Regions from separate parts of the Homo sapiens genome. Here region 1 is linked to region 2. Evidence: fine-mapped expression QTL. A gene starts in region 2. The other region holds a variant in brackets. All regions are shown on one strand. Distances are between the middles of the regions. Region 1 overlaps BORCS5 (BLOC-1 related complex subunit 5). Region 2 holds the start of DUSP16 (dual specificity phosphatase 16).

Region 1 (5,492 bases), 160 kb before region 2:
ACATTTTCCTTACTATCATATAGCTGTTTCTTGTTACCGAAAGCAGAGAGAGCTTTTTCAGGGAGGTTAAAATTATCGTTATCTTGTTATAGTGTTATTTTTTCCTTCTTAGTAAGTTAGGAGCAATGCTTTGTCTTCCTGAAGCTGTCTGAAAAGATGCTTGTATACATGTGTATAGCGCTTTGGGTCATAGAAATTAGGTGTTATGTCATCTGTTTCAGAAGATGCACTAATGCATCAAAAACAAGTGACAGGGAAAACAATGCAGTGAGTAATCTTGTTGCCTCAAAACTGAGCAAACGTTTTGGGAGAGCAAGTTCTTGCGGGACATCACTAAATAAGAATGAGTTGATGTCACACTTGGCAAGAAGCAACTCTTTAAAATTTTTTTTTTCCATACAAATAGTACAACATGACTGGGAGGAGGGATTGTGGGCAAAGGGTAAAGAATTATGGAGGGAAAATGAGCAGGAGAAGGAATGTGAGAATGAGCTGCTTGCTACAAAAATAATTAATATGTAATCAAAGCCATGTTTGTTTTGTCAGGAAAAATCTGAGTCAGAACATGAGCTGATGAAGGGGAGAGATGTTTACCATGTCCTCCCCCACACCCTCAGAGGGCCGTTGTGTGCAGATCCCTGCGGAGGGTTGTGTAACCATCTTGACTCATTTTCAGGGAAGAATGGCCCCTGTAGCTCTTTTGGCTCAATATAATGCTGCATCAAGGATGAGTGAAGAAGTCTCTGGAATACAGTGCTATCAAACTCAAAATATGGTCATTTTAATGAGAATTTCCAAACACTAGGAGGCAATACTGTGCAGACCTTGTGCCACCACCTGCCTCCCCCTTCCCAGATATCTGTGCGATATTGGGAATTCAGGCAGCCCAATCGATAGCTGATTTTACCTTTTCCTACAAGGCAGAAAATGTCAAGATTAGCCAACTATTTATTGAAATTAGTTGGAGTTATCTGGCTACATGAGTGTCTGTGGTCCAGTGTATCATAATAAGAGTGGGAGAGACGGTTGGGGTGCTACTGGCATCTTGGGTGGGCCAGCCTTTATTGTGTGTCACTGCCGTGTATTGGCAATTTTTGTCCCTGCCCACTGAATTGCCAGTGGTGCCCCAGTCTCTGCGATGGCCAGGAGAGGCCTTCCTTCTTCCAGATTACCTCTGTGTGTTTCAGGGGGGCTAAAACAGTATGTGTTTTACAGTATTACTAAGCAGCACAGTTTTCTTTGTTGTTCCTTAGCATAAAGATCTTGGAAAGTTTTAAGAAGTTGTGTGTTTATACTGTAGCATAGGTTTCATTCAACCTATCACTCCTATTCACTCCTCAGAGTGAATTTCAGGGAAAAACAACAGTATTGGGGGAAAAAGTTTGGAAAAATTGGATGGAGGGAAGGAAAAAAAAAGGTGAATTGCAAAAGGGTTTCTTACGTAGCCCACTATTGTTCCCCAAATCAACACTCACTCTCCAGCTCTTTGGGTGGTTGCTCTGCATTTTCAAGAGGCAGCCTGGGGTGGAGGTCAGGGTTGCAGGTAAGGTAGAGGGGAAATAAGAGAGGACAGGGAAGAGGCAGGCATGAATAAAAGATTTGGATTGGAATATAAAGATGGAATACAATGGAGATAATGAAAGACCATAACAAAGAAACAGGAGATTTTACATGGCATTGTTAAGCTTACAATGTTGGCATTTTGGGGACAATTCTGAGTACCACAGATCTAGAACTTCTAAAAGAAAAACCCTCTGAGATAATTACAGCAGTTAAAGACCTTCACATACATGTTGAATTAATAGTATTTAATGTCCCTTTGTAGGTTTCAATCTTTTAAGCCTGTCCTGCCAAAGACTGTGTCCTTCTAGGTGCTTAGCCAGTAATTTAGGTGTACTGTCACCAGTTGTTTCCGTCATGACTTCTAAGTCTCAGCAGCCATTTTCCCTTAGGTTTTATTAACTGAGTCAGTAACTCAAAGTGTCATTGTTTTCCACTCATCTGGACTTTCTGAAAATAACACAGTGCTTTATTGGAAAAGCTAAGCATAGACATTAGCCAAATGTTTGCTAAAAATTAACCAAATTAAATGTTATTAAATAAGATGTGCAAATAGAGGAAAATTTTGAGAAGTATGAACAAATCCCACTAATCTTTGTTGTCAGTCACTACTTAGAACCTTGGCTTCGCACCAAGGCTGAATTAAGTTGAAGAATGTTTTCCGTAATGCTTCCCCTACCTTTTAAGTTGGTTTGAAAACATTCAGTTGCATGTGTACCACTGGATTTTTAGCTTTTTCACTAGTTGTTACCCTGGCAGCCTTGATTCAGTGAAAATCTTGTTTTTATCACAGGCTATTTCTCTGAGCAGCCAATGTTTCACGCTCTCTCCCTGTCTAATTGTCTGGCCTTGGTAACTCTTAGCAAGAGTTGAAATTACCTCGGTCAACCACATGACAAAAGAGTGGGCATGGGTTTTCCTGAATGTCTCCTGAGGTGACCAAGGGTGGAGTGGTGGTAGCATAATAAACCCCATGGGAAGTGGAGCCATAGATTCCATCAGCTTTGCAGAGGGGCCTTAGACCCAGCAGGGTTTAAGAAACTGCTGTGGATAGGATGCCTTGTCCTCCATAGAGATTATCAGCTGCTACCTAGAATTTCTTTTTCATTTGCAGTATGTCAGCATACA[G/GA]AAAAAAAAAAAAAAATAGCAAACACCTGTGTATTCATCAAATTTGTCATATTTTAATATTTTGCCATGTTTGCTTCAGATCTCTTTCCCTGCAGGAAGAAAAATACACGTTTCAAATAAACAACGCCCCCTCCCCATCCTTTATATCCTTCCCTGATATTCCCTCCTCCTCCCACTCCACAGGGAATTATTGATCTGATTTTGGCATTCATCATGCCCATGTGTTTTCTTCGTGGCTTGTCTTTTTCCTACATGTTTTTGTATATCTAAGCGGTGTAGAATATTCTTTCACTTGTTTTGACTTTATATAAGTTGTGTTCTATATGTATCCTTCAGCTACTTGTGTAACTTTCTTTTTTCTTTTCCTTATAATTTTGAGATTTATCCATGTTGATATATGTCTCACTTATTTTCACTGCTGCGTAGTATTCCATCAAATGAATATTTCACAGTGTATCCATTGACTTATTAGTGAATATTTGAGTTGTTTCCAGTTGTTTTACTATTAAACAGTTTTGCAGTGGACATCTTTGTACATGTCTCCTTTTGCACATGTATGAGAGTTTTCTCTAGGGTATGTAACTAGGAACAAATTGCTGTCTAGTAGGGCACATGTATTTTCAGCTTTACTAGATACAGTCAATTTACTCTTCAAAGTAGTTATGCTCTTTTATCGCCTTACTAGCTATATATTAGAGTTCCTGTTGTTCCACATCCTCAGTAAAACCGGATATTGTCCCAGCTGTTCCTTGCTTATTGATTAATTTAAAGACAACATCGTGCTTAGCAACCATCTCAAACATAGGGTCAGATGCAAACTTAATTTTCTTATACCATGCTTCTTCCTTTTAAAAGAATTGTTTTGATTTCTGAGTTACAAATCCAAGATAACTATAACATAGCTTTTTTGCCATATTTATTTTTTTAATAATTTTTTTTCTGATCACGAAATGAATATATGATTATTTTAAGGAACTTGGAAAACAAAATGACAAAAAAGAAAATTAAAAATTCTACCTAGACATAGCCATTGTTAATAACTTGCTATATTTTTCCTTCTAGTGTAGACCTATGTAAAGTATACATTTACTTTATAATTAAAATTTGTCATTTTATATCACAATTTTACTTAAAATTCTATTGTGGCATTTCCCATGTCATTGGATATTGTTTGAAAACATCATCTAAGGCCAGGAGCGGTGGTTCACGCCTGTAATCCCAGCACTTTGGGAGGCCAAGGCGGGCGGATCACGAGGTCAGAAGATCGAGACCATCCTGGTTAACATGGTGAAACCCTGTCTCTACTAAAAAAAAAAAATACAAAAAAATTAGCTGGGCTTGGTGGTGGGCGCCTGTAGTCCCAGCTACTCAGGAGGCTGAGGCAGGAGAATGGCGTGAACCCGGGAGGCGGAGCTTGCAGTGAGCCAAGATGGCGCCACTGCACTTCAGCCTGGGCTACAGAGCGAGACTCCGTCTCAAAAAAAAAAAAAAAAAAAGTGTAAACAGCTGGATAACATTTCTTTTTGTAAATATAAATATAGTTTAATCATTCTCCCATTGGAGGACATTTTGGGTATTAAAATGATACTGGAGTACAAAATCTTGGTGCATAAATTTCATCTGAGTTTGTTTCTTTGGGATAGATTTCTAGAAGCCAGTAACTATTCATGGAATTAGATTGGATAGCTGATAAAAGCAGGGCATCAAGGGAGAAAAAAGAGTTGAGAGAGCAAAACAACATGCTTAAGGATCATGAGATTCGTGAATTCAGCTTCTGTCATATTTGAATTGAGTGGCAAATTTGTCTCTTACCTGAATTTGGAGACCCTTCTCTAATTAGGGATGATTATTAGAGGGAAATTCTGCCCTACTGTGGACACCAGAGAGTTGGTTGTGTGTTGTAGTGTTCAAGAGTTTTATCCAATATTCTGCTTCCTGCAGAGTTCCTGAATTGAGGGTCTTTTGTGGAATATCTCATTGAAGTAGACTTTTAACCTTGACTTGCTCAACATCTGATCAGAAGCAGCTCGTTGTCATATAAGGAAATCTGCTCTGTTATGGAACATCTTTGAGTAGTTGAGTTCCCCTTTTTCCCATAAGTCCAAATTTGATTCCCTGTCACCTTCAATTGTTCTTTAACTTGTTTTTAAACAAAAGTCTCCCTAAAAATAATTCCAGAAGTATTTGAACTTTATTTCTCTATTAGCTTCTACTGTAATTAACATGAAAACAAACATGTTTTAAAGTCTTTGTTTCCTTCTAAGGTATAATTTAGCTTTATCACGTCTTCATAGTGAAAGTTGTATACGTGAACGTTGGTAGGATAGAAAAACTTTCCACATAGTTTTATACTTGGTGCCCAGAAAACTTCCAAAGTGTTTAGGTACTACTCATTATTATTTCTTAGAAATTGAATAGAAGCAGTGGCTTGAGTATACACAGTCCCACTTTTTCGTTAATAATAACCACATTTCCCTTTTTTTTTTTGCACAAAAGTGTTACATGTATTTTCTCGTTTAATCCTTGTACAACCTATTAGGGTAGGTATTTTCCTCATTTGGCAGATGAGGGTGCTGAGGCTCAGAGAGATGAAAGACCTTTCCTGTCACACAGCTATTAAGGGCAGAGCTAGGATTTAAACTCAGATCTAATTCTAAAACCTGTATATTTAACTAGTTTGCACATCTGTCTCCCTGACTTAATTGCATCATAAAATCAAAGATATTTCTCTTCAAAATATGTTCATGTTGGATTATTTGGCTGTTTCACTGTTAGAGGTCTGTTGCTTCTGCTGGCTTTTCTGT
Region 2 (5,230 bases):
TGGTACGAAATCTTTTCTTTTAAAATTTTACCTTAACTTTAAAAAGCCCTTTTCTTGATGGAGGTGAAACAGCATAAATCCTTTGAGGAAACGGTTATCCTTTACGTGGACTCTCCATCAGCCCCATAAGGTGAGTGGCATAAAGAGGCATTTTTCTGACAGTCTCAGTTCCCCAAACACTAGTCCTAAACTTTTGCATGGATGGTAAATTTCACACACACACACACACACAGAGGCGGAAAAGAAAGAAGAGAAAGAAACATACCTGGTTTATTTTCTAAACAGGTTTGATAGGTTTGGTTCACTTGAAAGAGCAGAGTATTTACTTATAATCTTTTAAAACAGAAGTGGGAGCCAGAGCGCTGGGTAAATAAAAACTTCAGAGAGTTTTAAAACCCTGCATCTTAACTCACTTCCCTTTGGTTCAAGGGGATGGCACAGCAAACCCCACGGCAAATGAGATTATGCAACAGGTTTTTTTCCTCCCCAGCTTATTCATCACAGGCTGGTTAGAGGTGTGCTTTCTCCAATCTGAGACACCCACGACTTCAAAACGCCAAGAATCCTTGCAGTTGATGTTTCCTAAACTTCTTTAGGATTTTGCAGTATCCATTCATTTTCAGATCTACTTGCCTTTTCTCTGGTTCATTATTGGTATTCTTTAGGAAATAAACCCAGCATCTGAAAATATTTCCCTCTGTGGTGTTTCATTACATGAAACTACACGTGATACACAGACCCTGGGCTTTTTTATTTCTCACGTTTTGCAGCTAGTGTAAATAAAGAAGTCACTAGGCGTCGGGCCCCCCAACGCCAAGACCCGAGCCCCTGTCCGAAAATTGAGGGCTTTTTCGGTTGGTTGGTTGAAGAAAGCAGCACCGTCACCACCCAGGTGGCCTCGCTGCTTACACCAAAGGCGAACTGGGGATAATGGGAACAGTCAGGCCAGGGCCCCACTTGGCAGGCGTGTTGTGTAACAGTCGCGCCTGGAAGTGAGCAGCTTCGCCCGCAAAGGTGCCGCGTCCCGCGGCGGCCGCTCCTCTCGGCGGGGCCCGGTCCAAGCGCCGCGCAGCGGCCGGGAGCGCACCCACTGCGACCCCGCGCCCGGCCGCACGCCCCCTTCCCGCTCCGGCCAGCCTCCGGCCAGGCCTACACCCCCGCTTCAAACGCTCCTGCGGCCCCCGGCCGCGGTCGCCCCCACGCCGCCTCCCGAAAGGGTGGCCGGTACGCCCGGGAAGGCAGAGACGGCGGGGCTGGAGCGCGGCGCCCGGCACCGGGAGTCGGGGCGCGCTGCGGAGCGTCCATGCGGCCGGGCGGGAGGGCGCCCCGGGCCCCGCACCCTCCCGCCCGCACACCCCGCGCGGCCCGCCAAGGCCACTTACTTTTGGGGCCGCCGACCTCCCAATTCCCTCAGAGGGAAACGAAAGTTGTCACGGCGTCTCCCCTCGGGCCCCCCTCGCCTCCCGGACTTGCGAGGCGCCGCCGCGGAGCCGAGAGGGCGGCTGCGCTCCCGCTCGCGTCCCGTCCCGTCGCTCTCCTCCTCCTCTTCTTTTCAGTATATTATCTTCTCCTTCTCTGAGGGGTGGGTTGGGGCGGGAGGCTTAGGAAGAGAGGAGACGCTCGCAACTTTTCTTCACTCTTTCTCTTCCACCCTCCCCCCCATCAGCCTTCAAAAAAAATGTCGAAAGAGATGAAGAACTTAGGGAGGTAAAGGTGGGGGGCCGCGTTGTGAAAGTGGGGGTTGGGGGGGAGAGAGAGGTGGTAATAATCGTTTAAAAACTGATTAAAGCCCCCCAAACACTGATACATAGAAAGAGGGGGAAAGGCGGGGGGGTGGGGTGGGGGGTTGGGGGAAAGAGAAAGAGTCGCTGGTCAGGAAACTTCAAGCGCGGATGAGGTCATTGGTTTAAAAATAAAGAGATGGCGTCACTTGAAACCAATCCCAGTGAATGAACTCAGCGGAGCCCCGGGGAAAGGAGGAGACAGGCGAGGGCAGGGCGGTGGGCGCCGGGCGGGGCCGCGCGCTCGCCCATCCCGCGGCCGCCCGAGCCCGGAGCGCGGCTCCGCGCCTCGTTCCGGCCGCTCGGGGAGGGGTCAGGTCATGTTCCCTTCCAGAGTCCGGCGACTCTGAGGCAGGTTCCGCGGGCGCCGCTGGGAGGAGCCGGAGCTGCCGGAGGAGGCGGCCCCGCGGCCTCCTCCCCCACCTCTCCCTCCTCCTCCTCCTCCTCCCGCGCCCGCGCGCCCGCCCCCTACCCCCGGGCTCGCGGCCCCGACCCCCGGGCCGGGGTGTCCGCCTCCAGTGCTGCGCCCCAACAGGTATCGGAGGGTTTTCTCCCTCACCCAGACGCAGAACCTTTCCCTCCTCCTTGAGCTGTTTCCAGCTGCCTCACCAACGTCAAAAAACGCAAACACTGATTTGAGAGAATTACACTCGCTCTGTAAAAAGTCTGGCGAATGCAAAAGGCAAGGCTCTGCCATCTCTCAGGAGAGAAGTTACAGGTACTTCAAGAAAAATCACACTACTGTTGTCAGGCATTCAGCTATCTATATGTTTATGGTTGAAAGCCCCCACATAAATGTTCCTACATTACTTTACTTTGCTTATATTTACAAATACAAGGATAAGCAGCCTACATTTTCTTTAAAAATGTTTTCTACAGGAGGCAGCGCAGAAACATCTTTAAATAAGACCAGGGGTTAACCGCCTCTTGAGAGGTACAAAACCCTTGTTGATTTAACTCCACATACCTCGTGCATTTTATTATTTGAATTCATTAAAATGTCTGTTTTGAGATGACATTATGCACTTTGGAAAACGAGAGACCTGAGGTGGTGACAAACCAGGACTTGGAATCACTGAATAGGACAATCGGAGCTTTATTCCAATGTTCTTTGAGCATTTGAGCATGAAGCTGCTTCTACTGAGAAGTACTCACGTGGATATCACATAACAAAGATGTGATTAATGACGGAAAAGCACCCTGCGAGTGGACTGCTCCATGAGCCAGAATTTATGTGTAGGAATAATCTAACTCTTCAAATATTCCATTTACAATGTGCCGGATTGGGACACTAGACCCTAAAGGCACTGTTTGCTGTGGGATATCCATGTGCACCCTGCCTAAAGCACGTTTTTCCACTAGCAAAAGAACTGATAAGCAGGTTTGGGTGGGTTCGAAAGATAATACACCCCTGTTACTACTTTTCTGCCTTTAAGTCCTGCAACTAAAGGCATTCCTTATGATTGGTAATCATTGAAGGTTAGTGTTGCGGGGTATGGCCCTGGGAACTTCTGGCCCATCTTTTATAGGAGGGAAAAAAAAAGCCCATTTGAAGATGGGAGGCACCCTAGCACCTCTGGCAGTAGTAGGTAAAGCCTGAAGGCCACAGATGGAGAAGCAACTTTGAGCCTGTGCCTCTGGCCTCTTGAAGACTTTGCTAGGGGAAGCAAATCTCTCCCACTGCTCCCTGTCCTCTGGTGGCCAGGAGGTGTTACTGCAGCTTCCTTGGGATTATTTGTGCTCTACCAGGAAACCCCTAAAAATCTAACTGTAGACCTTTGTTGGAGGTGTTGGGATTTTTAGGAAGGAAGAAGAAGATAGTCCTTTTACTAGTGGTACAGAGCATGGATCTTGCCTGGAGGAAAGATTCATGAGAATTAATGGTATCCCCTTTGCATGCCAAAGTTCCAGTAACCTTGCTTTAACTGACATGGCTTGAAACGTTTCTCCCCTTTCCTCAGTTACACAATTAAGTTTGTGTAATGTATGATGTGGTGCCATCATAGCTATCATAGAAGTCTCTCAGGGTATTTCATCTATTTCTGGAAACAAGACGTATATTAAAGCTCATTAAAAACGAAATCAATGATTGAGTGATGTACAATATTGGTTAAAAGAGTCAGGGGGCCGGGCGTGGTGGCTTAAGCCTATAATCCCAGCACTTTGGGAGGCCCGAGGCGGGTGGATCATGAGGTCAAGAGATCGAGACCATCCTGGCCAACATGGTGAAACCCCGTCTCTACTAAAAATACAAAAATTAGCCAGGCGTGGTGGTGGGCGCCTGTAGTCCCAGCTACTCAGGAGGCTGAGGCAGAAGAATCACTTGAACCCGGGAGGTGGAGGTTGCAATGAGCCGAGATCGCACCACTGCACTCCAGACTCCAGCCTGGCAACAGAGTGAGACTCCATCTCAAAAAAAAAAAAAAAAACAAACAAACAAAAAAAAACATCAGGGGAGAAAAGGAGCAATGTAGGCTGGGATTATCAGGGAAGGCACCTTATAAAGAGTTTTGACCTTATCCTTGAAGGACAGTTCAGATTTAGTTTGCAGTGAAGAAGCCAGTGGAGGGAAGATTCCAGAGGGCAAATGGCAATGAGCCAAGACATGGAGGTGGAATGAATAATGAGTAAGGTGTATTCAAGTGACAGAAGAGTAAACCCAGTAGCAGTAGAAATCGGTATTTAGCAATTAGGTATGAGGTTAAATTTAAGAGATACAGAGGCACATTGTGGAGGTACTTGAATGTTAGAATAAATAGATTGTTACCTGCCCAGCAGGTGAAGGGGAAACCACTAAACAAGTTTACTTCACCGAAGAGTACATTTCTTTCTTTTACTAAGAAAGGTTTTCTACATACTAACAATAAATATGTGGAAACAGCCCTCTCCCTCTCCCGCTCCCGCTCCCGCTCCCTCTCTTTCCACGATCTCCCTCTGATGCCGAGCCGAAGCTGGACTATACTGCTGCCATCTCGGCTCACTGCAACCTCCCTGCCTGATTCTCCTGCCTTAGCCTGCTGAGTGCCTGCGATTGCAGGCACGCACCGCCACGCCTGACTGGTTTTCGTATTTTTTTGGTGGAGACGGGGTTTCGCTGTGTTGGCCGGGCTGGTCTCCAGCTCCTAACCGTGAGTGATCCGCCAGCCTCGGCCTCCTGAGGTGCCGGGATTGCAGACTGAGTCTGGTTCACTCAGTGCTCAATGGTGCCCAGGCTGGAGTGCAGTGGCGTGATCTCGGCTCGCTACAACCTCCACCTCCCAGCCGCCTGCCTTGGCCTCCCAAAGTGCTGAGAGTGCAGCCTCTGCCCGGCCGCCACCCCATCTGGGAAGTGAGGAGCGTCTCTGCCTGGCTGCCCATCGTCTGGGACGTGAGGAGCCCCTCTGCCTGGCTGCCCCATCTGGAAGTGAGGAGCGTCTCTGCCCGGCCGCCATCCCATCTAGGAAGTGAGG

The links. PIP is the estimated chance that this variant, and not a neighbour inherited with it, causes the effect.
Region 1: its variant is the best candidate, but not a certain one, in a credible set for the expression of DUSP16 in memory regulatory T cells (Schmiedel 2018, PIP 0.67).

What each region holds. Positions count from the first base shown.
Region 1 is chr12:12,397,901-12,403,392 of GRCh38, forward strand. All of the region lies in intron 2 of BORCS5 (BLOC-1 related complex subunit 5), which reads left to right. Among named protein-coding and RNA genes, the nearest start is that of BORCS5, 44 kb to the left of the region's middle. The variant G/GA (reference allele first, on the strand shown) is at 2,689.
Region 2 is chr12:12,560,735-12,565,964 of GRCh38, forward strand. DUSP16 (dual specificity phosphatase 16) reads right to left here and starts at 2,129. Exons shown (of 7, transcript NM_030640.3): 1 at 1,383-2,129. RefSeq lists an enhancer at 59-118 and silencers at 1,029-1,228, 1,249-1,368, 1,399-1,478, 1,929-2,438.